Homo sapiens: one gene and its partners. The protein of the gene in region 3 purifies or fractionates together with the protein of the main gene of each other region. This does not show direct contact. Each region holds a gene or a part of one and is shown on either strand. Other genes may lie near its edges. The genes, in order: XYLB, USP46, SERPINB6, HK1 and YTHDF3.

What was found.
Region 1: the proteins of SERPINB6 (region 3) and XYLB fractionate together in Homo sapiens (co-fractionation; one large-scale study listed by BioGRID). This does not show direct contact.
Region 2: the proteins of SERPINB6 (region 3) and USP46 purify together in Homo sapiens (co-immunoprecipitation; one large-scale study listed by IntAct). This does not show direct contact.
Region 4: the proteins of SERPINB6 (region 3) and HK1 purify together in Homo sapiens (co-immunoprecipitation; one large-scale study listed by IntAct). This does not show direct contact.
Region 5: the proteins of SERPINB6 (region 3) and YTHDF3 fractionate together in Homo sapiens (co-fractionation; one large-scale study listed by BioGRID). This does not show direct contact.

The regions. Positions count from the first base shown.
Region 1 is NC_000003.12:38,345,416-38,349,604, reverse strand, and holds the start of XYLB (xylulose kinase), read right to left. Parts: upstream 2,821-4,189; 5' UTR 2,737-2,820; coding exon 2,680-2,736; intron 2,673-2,679; exon of another isoform or gene 1,781-2,672; intron 1,059-1,780; exon of another isoform or gene 1,056-1,058; coding exon 973-1,055; intron 1-972. UniProt on the Homo sapiens protein: Phosphorylates D-xylulose to produce D-xylulose 5-phosphate, a molecule that may play an important role in the regulation of glucose metabolism and lipogenesis.
Region 2 is NC_000004.12:52,600,291-52,603,811, forward strand, and holds part of USP46 (ubiquitin carboxyl-terminal hydrolase 46), read right to left. Parts: intron 1,765-3,521; coding exon 1,567-1,764; intron 1-1,566. UniProt on the Homo sapiens protein: Deubiquitinating enzyme that plays a role in behavior, possibly by regulating GABA action. May act by mediating the deubiquitination of GAD1/GAD67.
Region 3 is NC_000006.12:2,951,105-2,954,579, forward strand, and holds part of SERPINB6 (serpin B6), read right to left. Parts: intron 2,083-3,475; coding exon 1,940-2,082; exon of another isoform or gene 1,936-1,939; intron 1-1,935.
Region 4 is NC_000010.11:69,381,347-69,384,846, reverse strand, and holds part of HK1 (hexokinase-1), read right to left. Parts: intron 2,361-3,500; coding exon 2,056-2,360; intron 515-2,055; coding exon 366-514; intron 52-365; coding exon 1-51. UniProt on the Homo sapiens protein: Catalyzes the phosphorylation of various hexoses, such as D-glucose, D-glucosamine, D-fructose, D-mannose and 2-deoxy-D-glucose, to hexose 6-phosphate (D-glucose 6-phosphate, D-glucosamine 6-phosphate, D-fructose 6-phosphate, D-mannose 6-phosphate and 2-deoxy-D-glucose 6-phosphate, respectively).
Region 5 is NC_000008.11:63,171,611-63,175,131, reverse strand, and holds part of YTHDF3 (YTH domain-containing family protein 3), read right to left. Parts: intron 2,480-3,521; exon of another isoform or gene 2,392-2,479; coding exon of another isoform or gene 2,334-2,391; intron 1,482-2,333; exon of another isoform or gene 1,451-1,481; intron 1-1,450. UniProt on the Homo sapiens protein: Specifically recognizes and binds N6-methyladenosine (m6A)-containing RNAs, and regulates their stability. M6A is a modification present at internal sites of mRNAs and some non-coding RNAs and plays a role in mRNA stability and processing.

The DNA of each region.
Region 1 (4,189 bases), on a different chromosome or scaffold from region 3:
ACTCTGAAGGACAGCCAGAAATCCCACCCTTACATCTCACATTCAATTTTGTAACAGGACCTGTCCATTTTACTACTCAGCTCTCTCCTATCCATCATTTCATACCTGAATGACCAGCAAAAACCTCTTTAATAGTTCCCCACGTCCATTCCAGCAATGCTCCGAATCTGTTCTCCCAATGCCCCCAGAGAGATATTTTCAAAACAAAAATACAACCTGTCATTCATACCTCACCCATACCCCTACCCCTTATGGCCCTTAGTGGCTGACCATAGCTTTTAGAATAAAGACAAACTCTATACCATGGCCTATGGAGCTCTGACCAGCCTCCGCCTCTCTCTGCTCCCCAGCATCATTGGCTTTCTTCAATTGCATGAAGGAATGAACCATGCTCTTTCTTGCCACAGGGCCCTCGCACATGTTGTTCCTTCTGCCTGGAATGCTCTTCCATCACCTGGCCAACTTCCCTTCCATCGCTTGGCTAACTTCACTCACTCTGATCTCTAGCTTAAGCACCACTTCCCTAGAGACGCTCTGGGACTTCCCCTCCCAAGTCTGAGTCACATTCCTTTATAATAAGCACTTGGAGAAGTGAGTTCCTTTCCTTCAGAGGCCTTCTCAGAGTTTATAATGAAACACTCTTTTGTGAGATTCTTTGTTTGATACCAGTCTCCACTACTCAGTGGGAAGCTCTGGGAGAGCTTTCTCTTTTTGTTTCGCCATCAGGTCCTAGCACCTGGCACAAAGTAGGTCTCAACTGATGCTTACTTCATGAATGGATGAATGGAATTAGGAAGAAATGGGGGAGATGGCACTCTAGGTATAGGAAAAAAAGATGCTTGAAAGGTCTGCCGAGACCACCACTCCTGTATTTGGCAAAGCCTCAACAGTGCGGTCTGCGAATACAAAAGTTTGCGGGAGGACCCCAAAACCAACACCCCCATCACACACACATGCACATCAAGTACATACCCAAATTCTGGAAGATCTCTGTCAAAATGCACACTTTCCTCATAGAAGACATTCAACTCTGCATCAACAGCAACAACCTTTACCTGAAAGGCATTTTAAAAAAGGAAGTGTAGAATTTTCCTCAGCTTCTACACTGGTCCAGGGGGTACTAACGTCACCAGATGAGGCCCCACACCCTAGGAGCAGTTCAACCTAGAGACCTCCTTGAAGGCAGGGCTGCCTCACCGTAATCGTGGTAACAGAGGACTCATCTGGGGTAACACTCAAAGATTTAGTAAAATGAAGAAACTGAGGCTAAGTAGGAACACCCACATGTCTCAAGGAATCTTTGTTCCCCAAATAGCCAAAGCCAAGACCCTCTAGAGGAAGATGTTCACAGATGAGTTGGTTCGTGCACCTGACAAGGAGGCGGGAGAAAGTGCCAGAGAGGAAGGAATGGGAAGCAAGGTTTGGAGGCATCTCTGGGGATCCATGTCTGCAGAGGCCTGAGACCAGGCAAGGCCATGGGCTATTCTCACAGGCCATGATTGTGGTCCAGAGACATTAATGTCCCACTGAAGCAATCTCCAAGCTTGGGAGTATAACTCCTTTCCTGGACAGATGGGAAAACTGAGGTCCAGCAAGGCAACTCGAGTCATCCAGAGTCCCACAGGACGTTCCCCCAAGGACTGGCCAGAGGCCTGCCTCCCTTGACCCATTCGAGAAGAGGGGTTTGACTGCAACTGTGTATATTTCCCAAGTACTTTAAAGGAAAAGGTGCCCCCGGTCACCCCATGCCCTCTTTGAAGGCAAATTTTGATTTGCTTGCCTGTCTGCAGGGCGTTGGCAGCAGCACACTGCTCCTCTGGCCAGCAGTCCTGGGTGCACAGACCAGGCAAGCTGGTGTCAACGAAGGGCGGTCACAGGGTAAAGTCCACTTGTACACTATGCATTTCACTTTTTTCTTTTTTTTTTTTTGAGACAGGGTCCCGTTCTGTCGCCCAGGCTGGAGACCGGTGACGCCATCTTAGCTCACTGCAATCTCCACCTCCTGGGCTCAAGCGATCCGCTTCAGCCTCCAGAAAAACTGGGACTACAGGTGTGCTCCACCATGCCCGGCTAATTTTTGTATTTTCTGGTAGAGACCGGGGTTTCTCCATATTGCCCAGGCTGGTCTCGAACTCCTGGGCTCAAGCGATCCACTCGCCTCGGCCTCCCAAAGTGCTGGGATTACCGGCAAGAGCCACCAGGCCTGGGCCATTTCAATTTTTAAAAAAAGGTTTTGGGCTATAATCTGCTTCCAGGTCACTGGTTGTGCATGTGCGCAGGGCTACCCGCCTGTCTGTTCCCCTGCCTTACAGTAGCTGACTTCCTTCGGATCCCCGTCACTGGGTGCCCAGAACAGCGCAGGAACCCGCCGAGTCCTCCGGCCCCTCTGGGCACCGGGGGTCCTGCCGAGGAGCGCCTGCAGTTTCCTGGGGTAGCTGGGTCCAGGCGGGGTCGAGGCCGCATCTTGCGAGCGGGTGGCATTGGCAGGGCATCTCCGGGCGAGGGCACCGGCGCCCCACGGCCGCGCGCAGGGCAGGGGCGCGGGGGCCCCGGGAAGCCCGAGAGGTAGGCGCGCCCGCGGCCGGGCCCATGTTTTCCCGCGTCCGGGTGACAGCCCGCCCCCTACCCCCACCGAAGCGGAGGAGGCGGCCCCGTGGCCCTGCGGCCAGGCGACTGTACCTGCTGCGTGCTGAAGTCCCAGCCCAGGCAGCAGCGGCGAGGGGCGTGCTCCGCCATGGCCTTTCGGGTAAGGCTGCGCGTCCGTCAGTCCGTCCGTCCGCCACGCGGCGTGATAGTCGCCGCGCTCCAGCGCCCAGAGACGCAGGGGCCCGCCCCTAGCTCCGCCCGGCCGGACTGTGGACCGGAGTCACGAGGCGGGCTTGCGCTCTGGCGCCGCCTGCGGGGCTACGCGAGCCGGGACCGCGTCCTGTGCAATCGACGGTGCCCCCACGCAGCCCGCTTTCCTTCGAAGCGCACCCCCTCTGGTTCTCCCCATCTTCATCTTATGTCTTCATGGGCCGTGCCCTGACACCGCCTGGCTTCCCTTAGAGGACGCCTGGGCCAGAGGTTTCAGCTATAAGCCGGCTTGTCTTTCAGAGGGAGCCTGCCTGTCCTTCTGGAGGCCCTGGGCCTGCCGTCCTCTGTGGCTGTATCTTGGCACTGGAGCAGCTGTCCACCCATGGTGGTGACTCAGGGGCCACAGGGAAATGGGCCCTGGGGTTGGAAGCACTGAGTCCTGACAAGCCCTATCCAGATCCAGCAAATCTGAATGGTTCCCAGTGTGTCACATCCCACCTGTGTATTTAAACTCAGCGGCTCCTGATGCCCCCACGGGGAGACACTCCTTCCTGGAGTCAATTGGTATTGATGGTCTAATGTGTGCCAGGCATGGTAAAGGGGAATGAGAACCAGAGTCAGACCCACTCCTTTTATTCATGGAGCTGAGGGCGCCTGTCCCACCAGCTACATCCTTCCCGTCCCTAAGACTAACTGCTTTCCAGAATTCCTCCCCAAACCCAGCATGTGAGAGGCTCCTCCTACGAACTTCCCAGCCCACCAGTGCCCTTTTCATGCACTTGCAATGGTCTGTCTCCCTTGCTGAACTTGAGCTGCTTGGAGTCTACATGGGATCCTCTTCACTGCTAGAACAAGAAGGGGCCAACATACTTGTCCTCCAAGACATTCACAGCTTATTGGGGACTCAGCCCCTCCAGCAGTCACCACCTGTGACAATAGACAAATACTGGATACTAGCTAGATCAGAAACAATTATGCAACCTGCTGAGCACATTTAATCGTCACAATGATGCTGGGAAGTAGGTACTATTATCTCCACTTTTAAAAAATTTTAAATAAAGGTATCTAAGTATCTAATCTAATTAAGATTAGATTACTGCATTTTAATCTAATCTTAACTGCTTGATGACTTTTTTTTTTTTTTTTGACAGAGTTTCACTCCTGTCACCCAGGCTGGAGTGCAGTGGCGTGATCTCCGGTCACTGCAACCTCCACCTCCCTGGTTCAACTGATTCTTCTGCCTCAGCCTCCCATGTAGCTGGGATTACAGGCGCACACCACCGCACCCAGCTAATTTTTTTTTTTTTTTGAAACGGAGTTTCACTCTTGTTGCCCAGGCTGGAGTGCAATGGCGTGATTTCAGCTCATTGAAACCTCTGCCTTCTGGGTTCAA
Region 2 (3,521 bases), on a different chromosome or scaffold from region 3:
TGCTGCAACTGTGGGCCAGGAGGTCCTGGCATGGAAGGGAAGGCAGGCCCAGCTCCCTAACCTCAAAGCTTTCCAGTGCTACCTGGAAGCCACCCAATCCGCAAGCATAGGCCAGCCCTGCTCCACATAGGAGAACAATGCTACTTCTGTGGGGAGGAGTTTGAAGAATCCTAGTTAGTGGCATGCATGACTTGGCACCAACTGAGCTCTGCTACCAGGGCTCTTCTGACCTTGTGCTCACATTACAGAAACTGACCTTAGAGAACCCAACCTCCCGCTGAACGTCCAGTTCCCTTACCTGTGTCTCTGCCAGTCCTCCCAAGGATTTGAATTGGGCACCCACAGAGACCCACACTGAAAGTCCTGTGTACCCTGTGCAAGGGGCCCTCCTGTCCACACCACCCCTGCCACCCACTTTAGCCACAATGCCCACCAGGTCCCAGGCTCTGCCTGCCCTAAGATCTTCCCCAACCCTGCACCAATGTGAGGCCTCATCCAGTGCTCAAGGCTGGGTTCCAGATCACTGGAACCCTGTGTTCTTCAAAAGAATAACAGGTGTTCTTTAGGGAGAACACCACAAAACTGGCATATAACTAGCCAATAAATATCATTTTACTGAGAATACAAGAAAATATCCAGTGACTTAAAGTTAATACACACAGGATAAAATATGGGGTGCTTCAGATGTGAAGTTATACAGTTTCTGATGCCATCTACCCTAGTACACAATTAAAAATATATCAACCTATTCCTCTGCGTGGCAATGGTAGTCTCCTGGTAATGGTGTATTCACCATAATCCGACCTTAACAGATGGAGGAGAAAGACTCTTGCTCTATGACATGCCCCAATCTAAAACCTATGAGGGCAGGGGGAAAGCTGTGCCTACTCCCAAGACAGAACATAAACCTGTCCCAACTGAGCAAAGAATAACAAACAGGTGAATTTTCAAGATACTTTTCTTCCCTTATACCAAATTATGGAATAAAAAATAGCTGCTCAAAGGAATTTTGGCAAAATGCTTTGCCTCTCCATATCTAGAGGCCTTCTCTCTCTTATCTTTTTTCTGATTATATACTTATTACAGAATGTTGGGGAAAGACCAAAAATAACAAAGAATATTTTTTAAGAATATATTTTTAATCACTCAAAGTGCCAAAAAATTATTAAATTTGATCCATTGCTTCTAGTCTTTATTTACACATCTTAAAATACTTTTGAGATCATACTGTAAATGCAACTTGGCTTTTTAAAAATTAAAATCATAGCATAGACATTTATTTCTCCATGTTATTTCAAATTCTTCATAACCATCGTTTTCATGCAATGGAGATTTATTAAGTAATTTCTCTCATGATAGAACATTTAGATTATCATTACTGGAATGCTCTTTATTTTATGTGCCTGCAGGCATGTTTATATATTTTTTGTGATGATCAGTAAGAGTTTGGCAGAGATCCCAAAACTATTGAGTGCCACGGCCCAGGAAAGGTGCAGCTGGGTATACTTCAGCGAAGAGGCAACCCTTACACTTACCCTGTATACCTGCTTCCAGTCTTGCCCTTACCTGCCACAGTGAACGACCACCGCAACCAAGTCATACATGCGGTCCAGGTTCACTGCATCACTGGAGGTGTTGAAGAGCCGGAGTTCCAGAGGGAAGACCACACGGTAAGACAGCTTGGTGTATCTGTGCAGCTGCTCCATGTACTTGAACCGCTTTAGGTGCAGGGCCAAGATCATGGGCAGCTTTTTTACCCTCATCCTAAGAAACCAAGAAATAGAAAATCAGTTGTACCCAACACCTATTAGGGGAAGAGAATACACTGTCATCTGCACAAACAGAATAGTAGGAGGTTCTATCCAACTTCAAACCAGCAAACAACCAAACAGTTTGCAAGGATAAAAGTATGCTGGCATATATAGAGCTGACTTATCCTACATCCCTGGCTCCCAGCAGGAGAAATGTACAATGGTGTGTGTCTGTTTGTTGGAAGGAGACGTTCCAGAATTTTTGTACAAATAAAAATAGGCTGTGCAATTGTTCTCCATCACTGCCCTGTGCCTTCCAGAGAGAAATGATATTTGGACAATCTACCCCCTGAGATGATGGAGAGGAAGGTTGAGAGCTTTTGAGAACAGGAAGCTGGGAAGAGGACAAGGTAGATGATGCCGACTGCTGGACTTACAGGTTCTGAGGACTGGCAGGAGGATGGATGCTTCTGACACACACTCTTGGGCATCGGGACACCAAGCGTGCCAGGCTCACTCTCATTCCGACCCTTGTGATCTTGGGCAAGTCACTTCCCTTCTCTAGCTCTCAGTTTCCTTATTTATAAAATGCAGGGGTTGGCTTAGGGCTACATTTCACAAACTGGGCTCAGGAGAGCACTGGAGATGTTAACAGATGTGGTGTTTCTGTGGCTAAGTAAGTTTGGATGATGCTACTTTCTGCTTTGAAGATCCTATGTGTACATTACCAGACTGAAGACTTTGAGAAATCCTGCAGTAAAGGAATTGTTCTGTTGTTTGATGTTGCACTTCCCAAACTTATATAAACATAGAAAAGTTTTTTTACTAGGTGACCATTAACATTTCTCAGTAAAAAGTCGCAAAGGCAACAGTTTATGCAGAGTACACTGCTAGAATAGAGGGTCTTCCAGTTACCTTCCAGCCCCCATTCCATGAATGTACTGAATTAAGTGTAAATGCCATTTAGTTTGTGTACATTTTTAATGCATAGTATGTGAAAAAGACAAATTTTAGAAGAATAGTTTTAAGGAATCTATTAAGGAAAAGCCCTGTTCATATAAATAAGCAAGTAAAACAACAGTAGAGAAATAAGAAGTATGGGGAACCCCATGTTTTATGGGAACACATGACATTGCAATATATAAACCCCCCAGGGCTGAACAAAAAATGTCTTAATGCCACAAAGGAAGACCCCAGGCCAGCCTTAGGCAGATTGAGGTTATAAGGATGGGGGACAGACATGAGTGACCTTCTTTACTAACAAAAGGTATCTACCTACCTCCTTGAGGACTGCCCGCTAAGGTGACTAACCATCTGTAAGTTTTGCAGCAAAGAAAAGTGTACATGTTTGGAGTGAACGCCTGGGAAGGCTGGGCAGAGAAATGATCTCAACCTCAGGTCTAGACCCCTGAGGGTTTTAGACAGCAGTATTGAGCATCTGCCAGCTGCCTTGAATACTCCAGAACCACTGACAAGATAGATTTAACTCACAGGAAGCCTTCGCAGGATGACTGAAATGGCAACTTTCCTGGCTTGTAGGAGCAGATTAATGGGGGTTATTCCAGATTTTCCAAGAACTGTAACTGTCTAGTGTGCAGGAAAGGTGGTGCAATAACTTTCTAACTTTCTTATCACCTGTTCTTTTTCTTTTTTCTTTTTTTGATACAGAGTCTCACTCTGTCACCCAGGCTGGAGTGCAGTAGTACGATCTCAGCTCACTGTAACCTCTGCCTCCTGGGCTTAAGTGATTCTCCTGCCTCAGCCTCCCGA
Region 3 (3,475 bases):
GCCAGGCGTGGTGGCTCACGCCTGTAATCCCAGCACTGTGGGAGGCCCGGGCAGGTGGATCACCTGAGGTCAGGAGTTCGAGACCAACCTGACCAACATGGTGAAACCCCGTCTCTACTAAAAATGCAAAAATTAGCCGGGCATAGTGGCACACACCTGTAATCCCAGCTACTCAAGAGGCCACGGCAGGAGAATCACCTGAACCCGGGAGGCGGAGGCTGCAGTGTTCCGAGATGGCACCACTGCACTCCAGCCTGGGCAACAAGAGAGAAACTCTGTCTTGGAAAAAATAAAAAATAAAAAAAAAAAATAAGCATGGCTGTGTTTCAGTAAACCTTTAAAAAAAATTAGGTGGTGGGCTGGCTTTGCTGTAGGCTGAAGTTTGCTGACCCCTGCCTTCAGTAATTCCTCCCTGCACCCCTTCAGGGTCCAAAGCCTCCAATCTTGCAATATAAAAAGATCTAACCTTAGTGACTGAATGATTCACTAAATACACAATTATATAGACAAGTTCCAGTTTATATAGAAGGTAATGAAATTAAAATAAGAATCTGTATCAACTCAAAATCTGTGCCCTTGGAGGTACACCTCTGGCCTCAGGCTGGTACGCTCAATACTGCAGCCCCTTCCTTCACCCTTCTTCACTGCAGAACTCAGAAAGCATGACGGGATTCCACATCTCCCCAAACCCACAAGACCTATAGTTCTGGCCTACACCATATAGAAAGCAGCTTTCCCTTTCTGAAACGCAGAACCACTAAGGGGAAGGTTTAGGCTCCCCTCCCCTCCCTTGTTCCTCCCCCTCCCTGCCACCGGGACTGCTGAAGCCAGCTCAGCCATCTTGTGACCATGAGGAAGAAGGCGACGTGCTGAGAATGGTGGAGCCGCCTCCCTGGGATCATCGCCCCAGTGCCAGACCAGCCCAGGTCTCACCTGCCTCCAGACCTCCTAGCAGGGGAGATGAGCTCCTAGGAGATAAACCATGGTGAACCGGGGTTTCTGTTATCTGTAGTCAAAGCCCTTGTACATCTTGTTAATCATTAAATTTTAAAGAGAGAAATTATTTTGCCAGGGGAAAATAGCACAGTTCATTTCAGAATAAAGCTTCAAAGAAAATAATTCTTTCTGAATTGCGAGGAGAACAGACAATGAAAATAAATTTCTTGAAAAACTGAAGGCTCAAGTTCAAGTTAGCCTGGAAGATCTAACTATGGTCAATGATCAAGAATACACTGTAATTAATCTATTCTGTTTACTTTGTCTATGTTCAAAAATTTCTATAGTTAAAGAAAAACAAAACAAGAGACAATAAAGAAGATTCAGTGAGAGGAAGATAAAGGGCCATCAGCAAATGACATCTTCCACGCTGGAGGTGGTTAATCTCAGTGTCTATCTACATGTTTGGTTTGGTTGTTTTAAAACAAAAATCTGTACTTATCCTTACTATCAAGAGAGGACTGAATATCACTCATCGGTTCAGCATTTACTAAGCACCAGCTACGTGTCTGGCACTTGTCAGAGAGTCCTCCCTGCTCAGCCTCAATTCAGCAGGCTGAGTTGTTCCGCTCCTGCAGTGTGGCACGGAGGCCAGCAGGAGGCGCGGTAGCGGGGCTTCCCGGGACGCCGCCAGAAAGAAAGGAGTGGGTAGGTCCTGATGGGAATGAAGCTAGAGAAAAGGAGGAAATGTCCGCTAGAAGATGGCACGCCATATCTGGAGTCTGAGCTTTAAGACCTTGATCGAGCCTGAGGGCTGCAGCTTCAGACTTGCCCTGTAGGTGGCAGGGCGGATGCCAGGCGCCCAGGGACACGAGGCCACCCAATGGATGTCAAGCAGGAGGGGCAGGGACAGAAAGGCCCCACGGCTGCAGACGCGGGAGGCCCCGAGCCGGAGACGCTCGTGTGAACACAGGCGCTGCTCCTGTCACGGCCCCTTACTCGCCTTGCTGACTTTAAACAGTCTCTCCTCGGTGTTCTCCTTGTCAAACTGTTCATCCCAGTTTCCTCTGAAATAGACAGCATTCACCAGAACCAGCCTTGTCAATGGATCCACTGAGCCCGGAGAGAGCAACTCCGCAATTTTACCTGAGCGGAAGAATTCAAGACCGCATTAGATAGGGGCGGCTGCGGATCCCCGACACATCAGGAATCGGCTGGGGCCTTCTCCTTCAGCAGTCAAGTGCACGGATAGAGAGTTCCACTGTCCCCCAAATATAAAGGGATACGTGTCCTTAAAGCAAAACAACAAAATCTTCTGGTACGAAAAACATCATCAATTGAATAAAACACACAAAGTGAACAAATATGCGTTAATTATGCAGGATGAGTTCCTAACACATGAGATAAGAAGCAATCATGGGTGCCTATGACTTAAAGACAAGAACTTAAAGGATTATCAAAAAGGTGGGCAGTCAGAAGATGTTCTTTACAAGCTTAAAGAACAGTTAGGCCAGACACAGTGGCTCACACCTATAATTCCAGCAGTTTGGGAGGCTGAGGTGTGAGGATCACTTGAGGCCAGGAGTTTGAGACCAACCTGGACAACATAGTGAGGCCTTGTCTCTTAAAAAAAAAATTTATTAAAATTAGCTGGGCATGGTGGTGCTACCTGTAGTCCCAATTACTTGGGAGACTGAAGCAGGAGGACCGCTTGAGCACAAGAATTGATGCTGTAATCCCAGCACTTTGGGAGGCCAAGGCGGGTGGATCACGAGGTCAAGAGATTGAGATCATCCTGGCCAACATGGTGAAAACCTGTCTCTACTAAAAAATACAAAAATTAGCAGGGCATGGTGGCACGTGCCTGTGATCCCAACTACTTGGGAGGTTGAGATAGGAGAATCACTTGAACCTGGGAGGCAGAGGTTGCAATGAGCCAAGATTGCACCATTGCACTCCAGCCTGGGCAATAAGAGCAAAACTCCATCTCAAAGAAAAAAAAAGAAAATTGAGGCTGCAGTGAATTGTGATTGTGTCACTGCATTCCAGCCTAGGTGACAGAGGGAGACCTTGTCTCAAAAAAAAAAAAAAAAAAAGTTTAAATTAAGAACCACAGATAGACCAGGGCGTGACCCAGTGTCCCACAGCAATGCATGGCAACTGTAGACTGTGCTACCCAAGAGGGAGGCAGCTTGAGATCCACACTGCGAATTTTTTATGTTACTTGTGAAAGGAAAAACTATATTAACATTAACACACTAACCCCCTCCTCAAAATTAAAACGTGGATTGATCCAGAAGAGGTATACCAAACACTGAAAGGCATCACGGGTACACCAAGGAAACAGGGAGAAATCAGAGAGAACAGAACACATTGAGCATTTCCAAAATGTCAAATAATGGCAACTGATTTCAGAAGCAGATTTTTTAAGTTTGCAGTTATTCAGAGAAAAAAAAATCATTCCTGTTTACAATTGACAGTCTTGTGAAGGAACTGACAATAAAATGGATTAAGAGGTTATTACAAAAGTAGAATAACA
Region 4 (3,500 bases), on a different chromosome or scaffold from region 3:
CCCCATGTAGTCCAAGAAGTCAGAGATGCAGGAGACAATGTGATCAAACAGCTGCAGGGGAAAAGAAAGGATCGCCCGTGCTCTCTGTGGTTTTAATTTTATCAGTGCACATGGACCAAAGTGTGTATACACACACACACGTAGGAAAACACACCCCACACACATGCAGAGTGAGCCTCCTTTTCCAGAATCTTCTCAGCCACCAGAGTGTCACAAGCCAGGCATGGCAAAAAGCATCTGGTGCTTCTGGGCCACAAGGACACAAATCCATGTGGGCACCCCGTGGCGGATTTTGGTCATCACGTGACTGCCGGTGCCACTGGCCGTGTGTGCAGTGCACATGCACTATGGTTTTGTAATCTCACCTCTTCCCCAGTGCCCTGCATGATTTCAATAGGAATGGCGTAGATCTTGTTGTGCATTTCCACCGTTCTCTTTTTCCCACTACGGATTTTCACCAGCAGCACACGGAAATTGGTTCCTCCAAGATCCAGGGCCAAGAAGTCACCATTCTCTGTTGCAGTCAAAAGCGTAAAGAATGTCAAAAACAGCTAAGTGCCTCTTGGCAGCCAGTAACCCCAAGACTCCAGACTTTCAAGGGGAGAACCCCATAGCAAACATAGAGGAGAAGCTGCAACTCCTCCCTTTAGGACACAGCACAGACTCAGAGGAAGAGTGGGCACCACATCTCTGACCACCACAGACTTGGAGCCACACTGGGAGGAGAGCATGTGAGTAAACCACCTGTCACAATACACAGACTTCACCAGGGCTGCAACAATGAAAATCTCCTACAAAAAATAATAATTTATGTCAAGGTGTGGGGTATTTGCAAAAACAGCTGCATCATTCCCTTCCCTGCATGTGCAAAATCCTTCTTTGCAACATGACTGCAGTTCCTCCCACTGAAACATGGAGTCAATTTCTCCTCCCCTGGGATCTAGCCCAGCCCTAGGATTGTTCAGGCCAACAGAGTGTGGCAGAGGCAAAGCTGAACCTATCCCCAGCCTGGGCTTCCAGGAGGCTTTGAAGTCTTCCCCTCTCCCTCGCAGCCCTTGCTGCCACCACTTGAACAGCCAGGTGGCCCACTGAAGGATGAGACACAGGGCCAGGGGCCCCTGCACCCCAGCTGACAGCCAACTGCTGGACATGTGGGGAAGGGCGTCTGAGATCTGCCTCCCAGCTGACTCAACAGCTGACTGCAGATGCAGGAATGAGGCCGGCAGAGGTCAGCCAATCCTGGCCCTGATGAGCAGAACTGTCCAACTGACCCACAGATGCATGAACAATAATAAAGCGTGGTTGTTTTAAGCCACTAAGTGTGAGGGTGGCTTATAATGTGGTATTAGGTAACTTACACATAGGACACATTCCTGTCACAAACATTCGTTACTCCAAGGACCCACCTGAAAAGCTCTTCAGATTCCCCATAATGATCAGCTCCAGTGAAAACTACCAAGGTTAGCATAAAGGGTTGGATTTTGTTCTACAATTTGCCTGAATGCGAAACTCCCCAGGCCCTGAATGCCTCATGCATACTCTATCAAGATTTAAGAAGGGTACACTGAGTGTTTATCCTTCTGCTGGCTTTCCTTGGCTTTGGGAAAACCTAATCAGTGCTGTGGGATTTGCCCAGCTTTTAAGAACACTTCTTTTTTATTCATTTAATTTTTTTTGAGACAGGGTCTTGCTATGTTGCCCAGACTGGTCTTGAACTCCTGGGCTCAAGCAGTCCTCCCACCTCAGCCTCTTAAGTAGCTGGATGACAGGCGTGTGTCACCTTGCCCAGCTAAGAGCACTGTTCTGAGCAGGGCTGTGGTTTTAGAGATAGCACTTGCCTGGGAGGTCTGACCAGGAAAATTAAACTGCCCTGAGTCACACACATGACAAATCAGTTAATAAAAATGGAAAACAGAGATGTGAGGGAGTTTCTAGCTCTGGCAAAATCGTGCATCACCAGTGTGAAGGCATCCACTGGCGAATCCAACCTCCCCCACTGCGGCTCAGTTCCTGGCAGGAGCAGGACAGGCATGTCAGCCCCCAGCAGGCCCTCACCGGTCCCGTCGGGAGTTCTCCGGACGAAGGAGGGCAGCATCTTAACCACGGCATTGTTGTGCGTCTGCTTCCTCAGCCCCAGCTCCATCTCGGCCCGCATCCTCTTCTTCACCTCCAGCAGCATGTCCTTGGTGAGGTGGAAATGAGCCAGGGTCTCCTCTATCTGCCGGTGCTGCTCGGCCAAGCGGTAGGCCACCGCCGTCACCATGGCAGCCCCCTTGCCGCTGCCACTCTCCGAGAGGAGGAAGCGCACATCGGAGTCTGGCACCAAGCGCCTTAGAGTCTTGTGGAAACGCCGGGAATACCTTATGGGGGCAGGGGGGACATTCCACAACAGCTGGACTGAGCATTTATTGGGGACCTCCGGCCACCCTTTCTTTCTCCACTCTTTAACTCTTTTTTCTTTTCCTTTTTTTTGAGACAGGGTCTTGCTCTGTCACCCAGGCTGGAGTGCAATGGCACAATCACAGCTCACTGCTGCCTCAACCTCCCAGGTTCAGGTGATCCTCCCACCTTAGCCTCCCGAGTAGCTGGGGCCACGCCCGGCTAACTTTTTTGTATTTTTAGTAGAGACAGGGTTTCGCCATGTTGCCCAGGCTGGTCTCAAACTTCTAGGTTCAAGCTATCCACCCGCCTCAGCTTCCCAAGTGCTGGGATTACAGGCATGGGCCACTGTGCCCAGCCTAATTCCATTTTCTGCACCTGCTTTTTTCATTACACAAATCATATACATCCACTGTAGAAAAGTTAGCAAATGCAGAGAGGTAAAAAGGAAAAATGAAATCGTTCATAATCACACATAAAAAGAGAAGACTCTCATTATTACATGAGTATCACATACAAAAAATTCCAGGTCTAAAAAGATTTTGCCCTCCACCATGACAGGAAGATAATACAGCACAGTGGTCAAAAGCACGGTGTTCAAAAGTCAGATGGGGCCAAGTGCGAGGTGGCTCATGCCTGTAATCCCAGTACTTTGGGAGGCCAAGGCAGGTGGATCACCTGAGGTCAGGAGTTCAAGACCAGTCTGGCCAACATGGTGAAACCCCGTCTCTACTAAAAATACAAAAATTAGCTGGGTATGGTGGCAGATGCCTGTAATTCCAGCTACTCGGGAGGCTGAGGCAGGAGAATTGCTGGAACCTGGGAGGCAGAGGTTGCAGTGAGCTGAGAGCACACCACTCCGCTCCACTCCAGCCTGGGCAACAGGGCAAGACCCTGCCTTCAAAAAAAAAAAAAAAAAAAGGTTAAGATGATATACTTCATGTTATGTGTATTTTACCACAATCTAAAAAAATTCTAATGTGATGCTGCAAATCCCTAGGCTTTCTTGTCCAAAAAATTAGCCAAGAAATTACAAAGAAAAAAGAAAGAAATGGCTAATAAAAGTTTCATTATCAAGATTTTTGCAAATACTTTAAAAATATTTTAAAAATACAATTACG
Region 5 (3,521 bases), on a different chromosome or scaffold from region 3:
ATAAGCCCAAGATTACATAAACACAAGCCATATATACACTTCCCCTTACCAAAAACTTTAAGTAAATATCCCAATCTCAACACTGTAGTGAGTAAATTGTTACATAAGAATGTTGGAAAGAGTTCCCTAATGCTATATTTGAATGTAAAATAACTATTTCAAGTAGCGTTGTAGGCAATAAAAAAGATTTCTGAATGTTCTCTACCTTTGTTTAAATCTCTAAATTATTTAGTATAATAAAGAATGAAATAACTATTTTCGATCTAATTTGTTATAGTAAATGTCTTAAATGTCTCCAGTAAAGTTTAGGCTAAAATTAACTTGAAACAATATCACAATGAATAGACTTATAATTATGAAATATCTAAATAAAGAGGGCTTTAATTCTAAGCCCCCCAGAATGAAGACTTTCACATGAAACTACAAACAAAATTAAGACACAAAAGATAGCCATAATTATCCTTGCAATACATGAGAAACAAGTCAGAGAATAATTTTGTTCAAAGGTCATCTCCATAAACACTCTAAAGTTGTTATTCTCTGGATGCTGTTTCAGAGTGCTTTTGAGCAGACTCAGAAGTAAGGTCCCGAATTTGAATCTCAAGTCCAGCACTGAGGAGATGATCTCCAGTTAGGGATTTAAACTCTCTAACCTTTGACTGTTCGCTGTTTCAGAAGGTTATGTATGAATAGTACCTACCTCATCTCATCTGATTATTAAATGACAGTGTTCAATAATCTTAAATGTAATCACATTAAATATTACAAGATCCAAATAGGACTAATATGACTTTAGAACCATTTAAACAGAAGTGTTACTAAGCTAATACTTGATGAGGTGGCACTATGTAAATATACTATTCTATACTAGTGAAGATAAAGTTGAAAGTTTCCGATGGATGTCTACAAATTAGAAACAAAAAGAACTCAGTATCTAAAGATTTACTGCTCAAAGGTACAACATCACCAAATTTTATGAAGTTAGGAGGGTGACGGGTTTAAATTGCGTATTCCTCTGTAATATAACATTTTTATTATCCTTAAATTTTCCCATGAGTGTAGAGCACCTAAAATGTAATATTATGAGTTAACAGTGGCTTGGGAGCAAAGATATACAAAATCCCTTAAATCTTTGCCATCCAATGAGTGGCAAAGATCAAAGATATGATGTTACTGTGTAAAGCATTCAAAGTAGACTTCTTACTACACCACACTGCCCCTCAGAGGCCACAAGAAGCAACCTGAAGGTCAACTTGATCCTGGCTCCACTAACATAATTTAACTATGTCTGATAAGGACTGCATCAGAACTAGGATTGAGCTAAATATGCTCCATGGAATTTAAATATGTAATAGCCACTAGAAACCAAAATAAAGAGGGTGCCTTAGGTTACTTCTAGTGCCATTATAAGGCTGGGTTATTCATTTCAGTCCAAGAGATTCTGACATACCTGTTCTCCTCTGACACTGGCTTTACTGCTCCTAAATCAAAGGTAAGTATGCATGGTCTATTACTTCTTGAAAAAAAATTCTTCACTATTACACTCATACATGTTAGTCAGTATTTGAAACAGCTAACAACTTAAAAATTATGACTAACTATCTCTCATATCCACTAGGTTCTCGAAAATCTAGTTCATACAAATACAAAAAGTGCCAGGCCAGGAGCTCAAGACCAGCCTGGGCAACACAGCAAGATCCCACCTTTACGAAAAATGTTTAGAAATTAGCCAGGAGTGGTGGCATGTGCCTATAGTCCTAGTTACTCAGGAGTCTAAGGAGGATCACTTGAGCCAAGGCATTCCAGGTTACACTGAGCTATGATTATGCCACTGCACTCCAGCCTGGGGTACAGAGTGAGACTCTGCCTCTATTTAAAAAAAAAAAAAGGAAAAAGTACTTACTTAAAATTTATCTGTATATATATATAAATATAATCCTGTTATTCTTATTTTTTTTGTTCTATTATTTCTCTTCTAAGAGGCTAGGCCTGAGAACAACCCATATACTATTATAAATACAGTCTACGGTCATTTTTAAATGATGCATAAATGTCTATAAAGTCTTAAAATATAGTACAAAAAGTCAATCTACTTTAAAAAATGTTTAATTAAAAGTACTTCACATATACCGAGAAGCAATTTGCATTAAACTAGCCCTTAAGTTTTGGAAGTGTATCTTAAAGAAAACTATCTTAAAGACTTTCGTTTTTGAATATTTACTTAATGACAAGCTAATGTCTTGGAGTCTGAAAACCATTAAATAGAAATGAAATCCAAGCTAGTTCCATAGTCTGTAAAATTTCTTCAGGGGTAAAAAGAACAGATGACTTACATGATTCTTCGCCTGTTTCCTCTGCTCTATGAAACAGAGTCAAATCAAGATAGAACATGGGCCTTAGGAGCCAGGTGATTCTTTGCTCTGGTCCTGACTACATCAAGTTAGGAAAGTCAACAGATCTGTGCATCATGTTTCCCCACCTACAAAAACAGCGACAATACCATATACCCGCTATCTCCTTACAAGGATGTTGTGAGGATTGATAAAATGAAGCCTAAAATAATGATAGTAAAGTGCTTTGAAATCATTTCTCGGGAGGACGAGGAGAGAATACAACAGAATATTGCCAAAATATAAGGCATTTTCCACTACTTTTCGAAAATTAAAACTTAGCCAAATTTAACCTAATTATTTTAAATTACAGTTGTATAAAACAATGCATACGTCTCTCCGTTGGAAGAGAGCGGAGAGGAGGAAAAAGATAAATCCTGTTCCATGAATTTGCTATTTATAAACTTAGAGGAGAAAGGAGGCAGTAAGGCCTAAGACTGTAAGTATGGCATCTGACACTTCCAACCATAGTACTCCCAAATAAAAGTACTGCACACCTTTATTCCAATAAGCAAAAATTCTACTTAATAAAAAAATAAAATACGAAGTGTTAAATTATGAACCAATAGGCAAATAATTATCCTTAAATTTCTACTATCCTTTGGTACTACTCTTGCCAAGGATAATAAAGAGTTCTGATATTTAACACAGGGACAGACTTAATTAAAAAAGAATTCAAACTTATAAAACAAGTAAACCTTGAATTATTACTTATTCTACAAAAAACATTTTTGCCATATCAAAGACAATTATTTAGAATTCCTTTTGGCTTCTGTAATGAATTAAGTAATTAAGGATATATAGAAAATCAAAGACACTAAAACTAGGTGTTAGGCTAAAGCTGTCAACTAAAGACAATTCAGAAAAGAAACAGGATCTCTGAAATTATAGTAAGTTGACTGAAAAGGATTACGTGTTCAAAACTTTAACTGACACCAACTTCTCAAGGACATACTATTTTTCATAAGCTTGCTAAGTTCAGAATTCAAGATTACTCATATTTAGAATACTGAGGTTGCAGTTCAAGAAAAATAACTTCATGAAAGTAAACAGAATTGTAAAACAATTTTACGAGCTGGGAACAAGCTAAGGCAGAAAAGCTTTTCTCAAATACACACATAGCTACTTATA